Homo sapiens: one gene and its partner. The protein of the gene in region 1 interacts with the protein of each later gene in a pairwise test. Each region holds a gene or a part of one and is shown in the gene's direction. Other genes may lie near its edges.

Region 1 (3,820 bases):
AACATGATCAATAAAATCCACAATAAATCCAATATATTTCAATAGTTTGAAAACCCTGCAGTTATTTCATAGATCTAAGGAAAAGCATATTGTAGAATACATCTGATTCATCCTACAAAAGGAAAAATGAATGTGTACATTTTTGTTGTACTTACCCAACTCTTTGAAGATATCAGGACAGGAGGAGGAAAACTAAAAGTACAGTAAATTCACTTCCTGCTCAAATGCTTTTTGGTTTTGTTTTGTTTTGTTTTGGATGTATTCTAAAAATGCAGTTTAATTGTAGGAGGGTCTCAGATACTCCAAATAACAAAATTACTAAAGTCTTTTTGTGGGTTTTTATTAACATTTTCATCTTATTTTTCATGTGCATGGTTTCTGTCTGATAGGTGCTAAATGAAAATTATGGCTGAGATGAGAAAACACTACTAAGAAAAAGGGATTGAATGGTTTTATTTGTTTAGGCGATTTTGCCAGAATACCTTCAAGCCAAGGAAGGAATCGCCAGTTTGCATATTGCTATTTTTGCTGTGGTCTCCCCAAGTTGTCTTCTGATCCCCGACGGGTTCTTTCTCTGGTATAAAACAGCTGAATGAATGACAAAAATATTGGCAAGCTCTGCGGCTTGTTTTTCATGCCTAGCCTATTGGTACCTCCGAATGAGTTTGTGAGTTTTTCTAAGTAAACCTAAAGGGTTTTGTCAGACCTAGAATCTCTTGTGAACAGTTCACTAAAGCTTTGGTGAAGACTCACATGTAGAAAGATGTAGCTGTTTTATTGCCGGCTTTTGTTCAGCAGAAACAAGCAAATAGAGAATCTTTGAAGGGCCTCTCTGGTGTCAGTAGGAAATCCTGATTTTTAGCTACGGTTGGTGTGCACTAAGTCATCTTCAGAAGTTGGTAGGATTCTGTGAGTCCAGAGGACAGAGCTTATAGAGGCATTAGTATTGTAGGACTAATTGTGGATCCTGGGTGCCCTGTTAAAGTAACCCTTGTCATCATTTATGCTAAAGATGATACCCTTCTGGCAGTTTGCCACAGTACAATTCAGATGCATCTGCTTTTAACCCTTTTCCGTTATCATTGGAAGTCTGACAGTGCGCTGCATAAACACCTTGAGTACCACAGCATTCCGTAATATCAATTTCTAGAAGAAGCCTCTTTCTAATAGTAGTGTGGCCGGTGCTTATTAATCATCTAGCTACTGAGTTACTGTATTGGATTAAAATATATAAAGAGAGAGCACACCAAATCTATGCAGATTCCTTTATCCTAGTATGTCAGTTTCCTTTTCTATCTCTCATTTTTACCTTATTTACTGTAACAAAGATTGTTGATTTTAAAGACTTATGGGTACCGTGCTCTCTTTTTAGTTAGGTAGGTTAAATGAGTATTCATAAAAGCAAATGTTATTTTTCTACATTATGCAGATATTGAAATTGTGTATTATGAGCACCAGTTTGGTTAAGTACTTTTTGTGGAACCAGTTAGAGCTAATATCTAAAAAAGGAAGAAAATGATTTGTGGAACCAGTTAGAGTTAATATCTAAAAAAGGAAGAAAATGAAAATTTCGTGGTCGAAGATAATTTGTTTGGACACAAACCCAGGAAAAGTTTATTATTAACAAAATCATGTAAGCAGTAGAAAGGTGGGTTCTTCTGAAGATAAATGGTGAGTTATGTTTGCATACTGTATACTACTCATAGCAAATTAGAGAAGATACATTTATTTCTCTTTCGTCACCATTATTATTTGATCAGAAAGGTAATTCTGCATTCATTGCTTTTGGAAAATGCACTGTTAATTTAGAGCACAGCTTACCTTAGGACCAAGTTCATATTCTACTTAAATATTTCTGTTACGACTTTAAATAATATGAGAATGTATATATTTGTGTGCATTTGCCTGTACTGTACCCAGTCTGCCTTGGAAGCACAGTGAATCTCTTGTGATTATTTATTTTCATGGCTAATATTTCCTCCCGCCACCCCCAAGCTGTATTTCTGAAGATTGTTGGTTTTCCATCTCTTCTTCTTCATCTTTTTGATAGGAACCATGCTGCCAGTTTTCTGTGTGGTGGAACATTATGAAAACGCCATTGAATATGATTGCAAGGAGGAGCATGCAGAATTTGTGCTGGTGAGAAAGGATATGCTTTTCAACCAGCTGATCGAAATGGCATTGCTGTCTCTAGGTTATTCACATAGCTCTGCTGCCCAGGCCAAAGGTAAATAATGTGTACGTGGGGTTGGAAAAATTGCTTAGCATTCTTTGTTTACCTTGCAGAGAAAGCACTGAATATTTTTATTCAAAGAACTGTAGCCTGTGTATTACATTGGTTCCTTATAGGCTGTGGCTTTAAAAAATTGGCTTAATTCAGTTTGGTTTAGTTAACACACATTTTGCTCATGTGGAATGTCGAGGTAGATTTTTTTTTTAAATTACTTCAGCTGAATCATTAGTATGCTTATTGACCTTAATAATCTGCTCCACTGAGGACCCACAAGGAAGTGAGGAGCGTATTTGAGCAGATGGACTGTTGAGAGTCAATTTGCATTTATGACTGAATATCTAGTTCTGTTTCTTTTATTCTGTTTCTGATGGTTTTATGGGCTGCAAAGTATTTTTCAATGCTGATTCCCACTGCAATAGAGAATCTTATCTAAATCATAAAGCCATTTAGAACTGGTTCGGCTATGTCTTATTAGAACTTCCTGTAAGTTAGGAAAATGTGGCCTTATGCATAGGTTTTATTGATGGGGTTTTATTTCCAAAATAATAAACAACCCTACAGTCATTTACATAATTTTACAATTTGGAAAGCTAAGCTGTGAATATTTTCATTGACCTGCCTTTTAGAGGGAAGGGAATCATTCAAACAGAAATAACGGTACTGCTTGTGGTAGGGGTAGTAGAAAAGAAAAGAACACCCTTCTAGTAGATATATTATCTGAGGGTAAAATATTTAGTGACATATTCTCTTTATCTGAAATAGGGCTAATCCAGGTTGGAAAGTGGAATCCAGTTCCACTGTCTTACGTGACAGATGCCCCTGATGCTACAGTAGCAGATATGCTTCAAGATGTGTATCATGTGGTCACATTGAAAATTCAGTTACACAGGTGAGTCAAGACAGCAAATCTAGGGTGAAACATTCTTCTTACCTGGTCTTTTGAAATGAAGCATTTCTCTCTGGTCGACCTTCAATTTTTTTTTAGTCTGTGTTTCAGAAAGGTTAATACAGATCGATTTTGTTACCCTATCCTTCTGCCTTTTTTCCTAACTTCAATGTATAATTTAAAAGCAATCCCCCCCCCCACACACACAAAAAATGTGTAGGTTTGTGCAGGTTATCAAAAGACAAGACTTTTTACGTTTAGTCAATTAAATAATGCATCACAAGAAGGCATTTTACATAAAGTTTACTTAAGAAAAAAATATTTTTGCATATCATGAACAGTGCCATCTGTGTACATTTTGTGAAAGACTGTCTTATTCACTATTACCACAGTCTTATTTATTTATTTATTTTTTTATGATTTTTAATTCATATGAACAGAGTAATGAAAGGAAATCGGTTAATACATTAAAGCTTTTCATGATGGCTCAGGAGAAAGCAGTACACCTTAAATTGTCTTCCCAAGCGCATCAGAGCAGGAAGGTAGAAGTAACATGAAAAAATAGCCACCACAGGCAGCTGATGTATAATTCATGCATCGATACAGCAGATGTGTTGTATAAAGTAATTAACTAATCGGAACAATCAGGAGACCGAGAGCAATCTCCAGATGCATCTGTTTGATGCGCAAAATGAAATCTG
Region 2 (3,392 bases), on another chromosome or scaffold:
CGGCGGGGGTGCGAGAGCGTTTGTCCTTATCCTGATCCCCCCGACCTGCCCTCTTCCCTCAGGTGGTGGCACCTCCGTGTTCAGGAGCTGGGCCTGTCAGCCCCGCTGACCGTGCTCCCGACCATCACCTGTGGGCACACCATCGAGATCCTCCGGGAGAAGGGCTTCGACCAGGCGCCCGTGGTGGATGAGGCGGGGTCAGTCTCAGCCCCTGCTCAGAGCTCAGTCCTGGGTTCTGTCTGCCCAGCTCCACCCCGTCAGTGTCACTGGACAGGGCAGCCATGCAGACCCTGCAGCTGGGCTGATAGGCCCGCCTGGGCCGCCTCATACAGACGTTCAGGGCATTGGAGGCCCCTTGCCGGTCCCTGAGCAGCCTGGGGCAGGGCTGCCGTGCTCACTCCAGGCCCTCAGACCTCAGCCCACCCACCCTTTGTGTGCAGGCTGTCCTGGGCCCACCTGGAGGTCAGGGGAGAGATGCCCCGAGGACATGTCTGACAGCAGAAAGCCTTGGCACACATGCCCAGTGACCACTGAGAGCCCCACGTCGCGGAAACCTGACGGCTGGTCACCCTTGACCCTGGCTGAACGGGTCCAAGGACTCTTGGTTTCTTTCTCCCCACCAGGGCCCAGACTGGTTCCTGCCGCGTGTAGGCTCGTGGCAGAGGACTTCCATGTGTGGCCAGAGAGCGCTCCTCCCTGGGGCAGCTGAGCGTGTGCCCCACCGTCCTGGGAGGGGTGAGGTATGAGCGCTGACCCCTGCCTGCCCCCGTCCCACAGGGTAATCCTGGGAATGGTGACGCTTGGGAACATGCTCTCGTCCCTGCTTGCCGGGAAGGTGCAGCCGTCAGACCAAGTTGGCAAAGTCATCTACAAGCAGTTCAAACAGGTACCCAGTCACCTACAGGCAGCTCAAACAGATGCGCAGTCACCTACAGGCAGCTCAAACAGGTGCCCGGTCACCTACACGCAGCTCAAACAGGTGCGCGGTCACCTACAGGCAGCTCAAACAGGTGAGCGGTCACCTACAGGCAGCTCAAACAGGTACCCGGTCACCTACAGGCAGCTCAAACAGGTGCGCGGTCAGCTACAGGCAGCTCAAGCGGGTGCGCGGTCACCTACAGGCAGCTCAAACGGGTGCCCAGTCACCTACAGGCAGCTCAAACGGGTGCCCGGTCACCTACAGGCAGCTCAAACGGGTGCCCGGTCACCTACAGGCAGCTCAAACGGGTGCGCGGTCACCTACAGGCAGCTCAAACGGGTGCCCAGTCACCTACAGGCAGCTCAAACAGGTGCGCGGTCACCTACAGGCAGCTCAAACAGGTGCCCGGTCAGCTACAGGCAGCTCAAACAGGTGCGCGGTCACCTACACGCAGTTCAAACAGGTGCGCAGTCACCTACACGCGGCTCAAACAGGTACTCAGGCACTTCGGGACCCCAGAGGGTGCCAGAGTACTCCAGCCTCGAAGGCGGGACACCGCGCTTCCCGTGTGGGGGTGCTGGGTCCTCGACCCTCAACACCACTTAGGCCGAAGCTGGCTGCACCCCTCAAACCATGAAGCTGAGAAGCACCCACTTTACAAGTGCAGCAGCCGGAGAGCAGGCTCTCATCAGTGCAGGCTCATCCACACCAGCCGTGTTTTGGGGACTTAAGGAGGTCATTCGCGCTCAGAGGCTGTCCCGGGCACCATGCGGCGTCTGCCGGGGTCTTTCTCCTGCCCAGCCTCATTTGCCTGTGCATGCACTTGGTTATCCAACAAGAGCTAGAACATTCTGGGAGAAGCCCACGGTGGCTCCTTGCCGGGCTGGTCAGACTCCGTGGTTGTCCTGAGACACCCACCCTCTGCTGCCCTGAGGGTGGCCCAGGAAAGTTTGTGTGACCTTCCACACGGATCCCCTGGGACATGCAGGTGTGGCTCTTGACACTGGAAAGGCTGAGGGTTCTGCCCAAACCTAGGAGTGAATTCGACTTCTTTCCCATCTCACACACACACCCGAGACGTCACCCGAATCCACGTATTTCCCACGTTCGGCTGCCACTGCCTCCCGGGTGGGCTTTGCAGGACCCACCATCGCATCCCCTCTCACTCCACAGAAAACTCGTGGGGCCATGTTCCCCCTGCCACTGACCACGCTTCCCTTGCAGATCCGCCTCACGGACACGCTGGGCAGGCTCTCGCACATCCTGGAGATGGACCACTTCGCCCTGGTGGTGCACGAGCAGATCCAGTGTGAGTGGGGCCCTGCTCTGTGCGTGGGGTTCTCACTGGGGTCAGGCCACCAAGCCTGGCCTCTGCCATGGGCAGCAGCTGGGCCCCCCATCCCCTGCGGGGTGTTAGGGGAGTGGGTGGTGCCGACCTTCAGTGACACCCAGTCTTTATGCCTGGGCCTCCCACATGCCCTGGGCTGGTGGGCTGTACCTGTGATTCCTGCAGGGACCCCTCATCAGGCCACACTGGGTAGGGCCCTTTGTCCAGCATGCAGAGGCTCAGGAGTCCAGGCCCCTTGCCTCCGGGGAGGCCAGCAGTCTTGGGGATTCTCAGGGACAAGCCCAGAAACATCTAGAAGGGTTTCAAGTCCTGACCCTGGCATTCGGAGGGCTGCTCTGAATGGAAGCCTCATGTGGGTCTCACAGGAGCCACTGATGGGCTGTCCTCAGAGCCCCGCTCCCAGCAAGCTCATGAGGTTTTGCAACTCCTGAGCGCATCCCCGGGCGTCCCCACCACATCCCCACAGGCCAGGAGAGTCGCTCGCAGGTTTTGGGTCATAGATGGCAGCCCTGGGCCTGGGGCCCACAGGAAGAGTTGGGAGGGGCCCTGGAGCCTGGAGCCTGCCCACCCACCAGGCCTGTGTGCAGGGGGTGAGCGCTCGGTGGCTGAGGCTGGTCCGTGAGGGCCCCAAGTCTAACCCCATCTCCCGTCCTTGGCTCTGCAGCGCAGGACCAGGCCTGGGCAGGCGTGGTGGGGGGGCCTGCAGGTAGGTATCACCCACCCCTCAGAATGGCTCTCAGGCTCAGATTCACAGCCTCCCCATGGCAAATGGAGGCCTTCCAGGGTCCTGGACCCACCCCCAAGCTTGGGTAGGAGGGATCCCCCTCTTAATCTCACATTTACTTGTGTTTGAACATCTCAGAAAAAAAAAAAGATGCAAATTCCAATGTCAGGGTCCCCAAATCAAGTCTTCCTGGAGCATGTCCACGCTTGTCACCACCGTCTGTGGCTGCTTTCAAGCACGTCAGGGCTGCGTGCTCATAACAGAGACGGCACGGCCCCCAAGACCTAAAATACCACCAGCTGGCCCTTGTCGGAAAGTCCCCTGGCTGGCCCTAGTCCATTGACTCTGGGCCGAGCTGCCAGGGCCACAGAAGCCTGCGGCACTCAGGGCTCCCAGGGCTC

The links.
Region 2: the proteins of SATB1 (region 1) and CBS interact in a two-hybrid assay, tested with the Homo sapiens proteins (one large-scale study listed by BioGRID).

The regions. Positions count from the first base shown.
Region 1 is NC_000003.12:18,415,309-18,419,128, reverse strand, and holds part of SATB1 (DNA-binding protein SATB1), read left to right. Parts: intron 1-2,050; coding exon 2,051-2,227; intron 2,228-2,995; coding exon 2,996-3,122; intron 3,123-3,820. UniProt on the Homo sapiens protein: Crucial silencing factor contributing to the initiation of X inactivation mediated by Xist RNA that occurs during embryogenesis and in lymphoma.
Region 2 is NC_000021.9:43,055,639-43,059,030, reverse strand, and holds part of CBS (cystathionine beta-synthase), read left to right. Parts: intron 1-62; coding exon 63-197; intron 198-623; exon of another isoform or gene 624-740; intron 741-777; coding exon 778-886; intron 887-2,143; coding exon 2,144-2,228; intron 2,229-2,931; coding exon of another isoform or gene 2,932-2,973; intron 2,974-3,392. UniProt on the Homo sapiens protein: Hydro-lyase catalyzing the first step of the transsulfuration pathway, where the hydroxyl group of L-serine is displaced by L-homocysteine in a beta-replacement reaction to form L-cystathionine, the precursor of L-cysteine.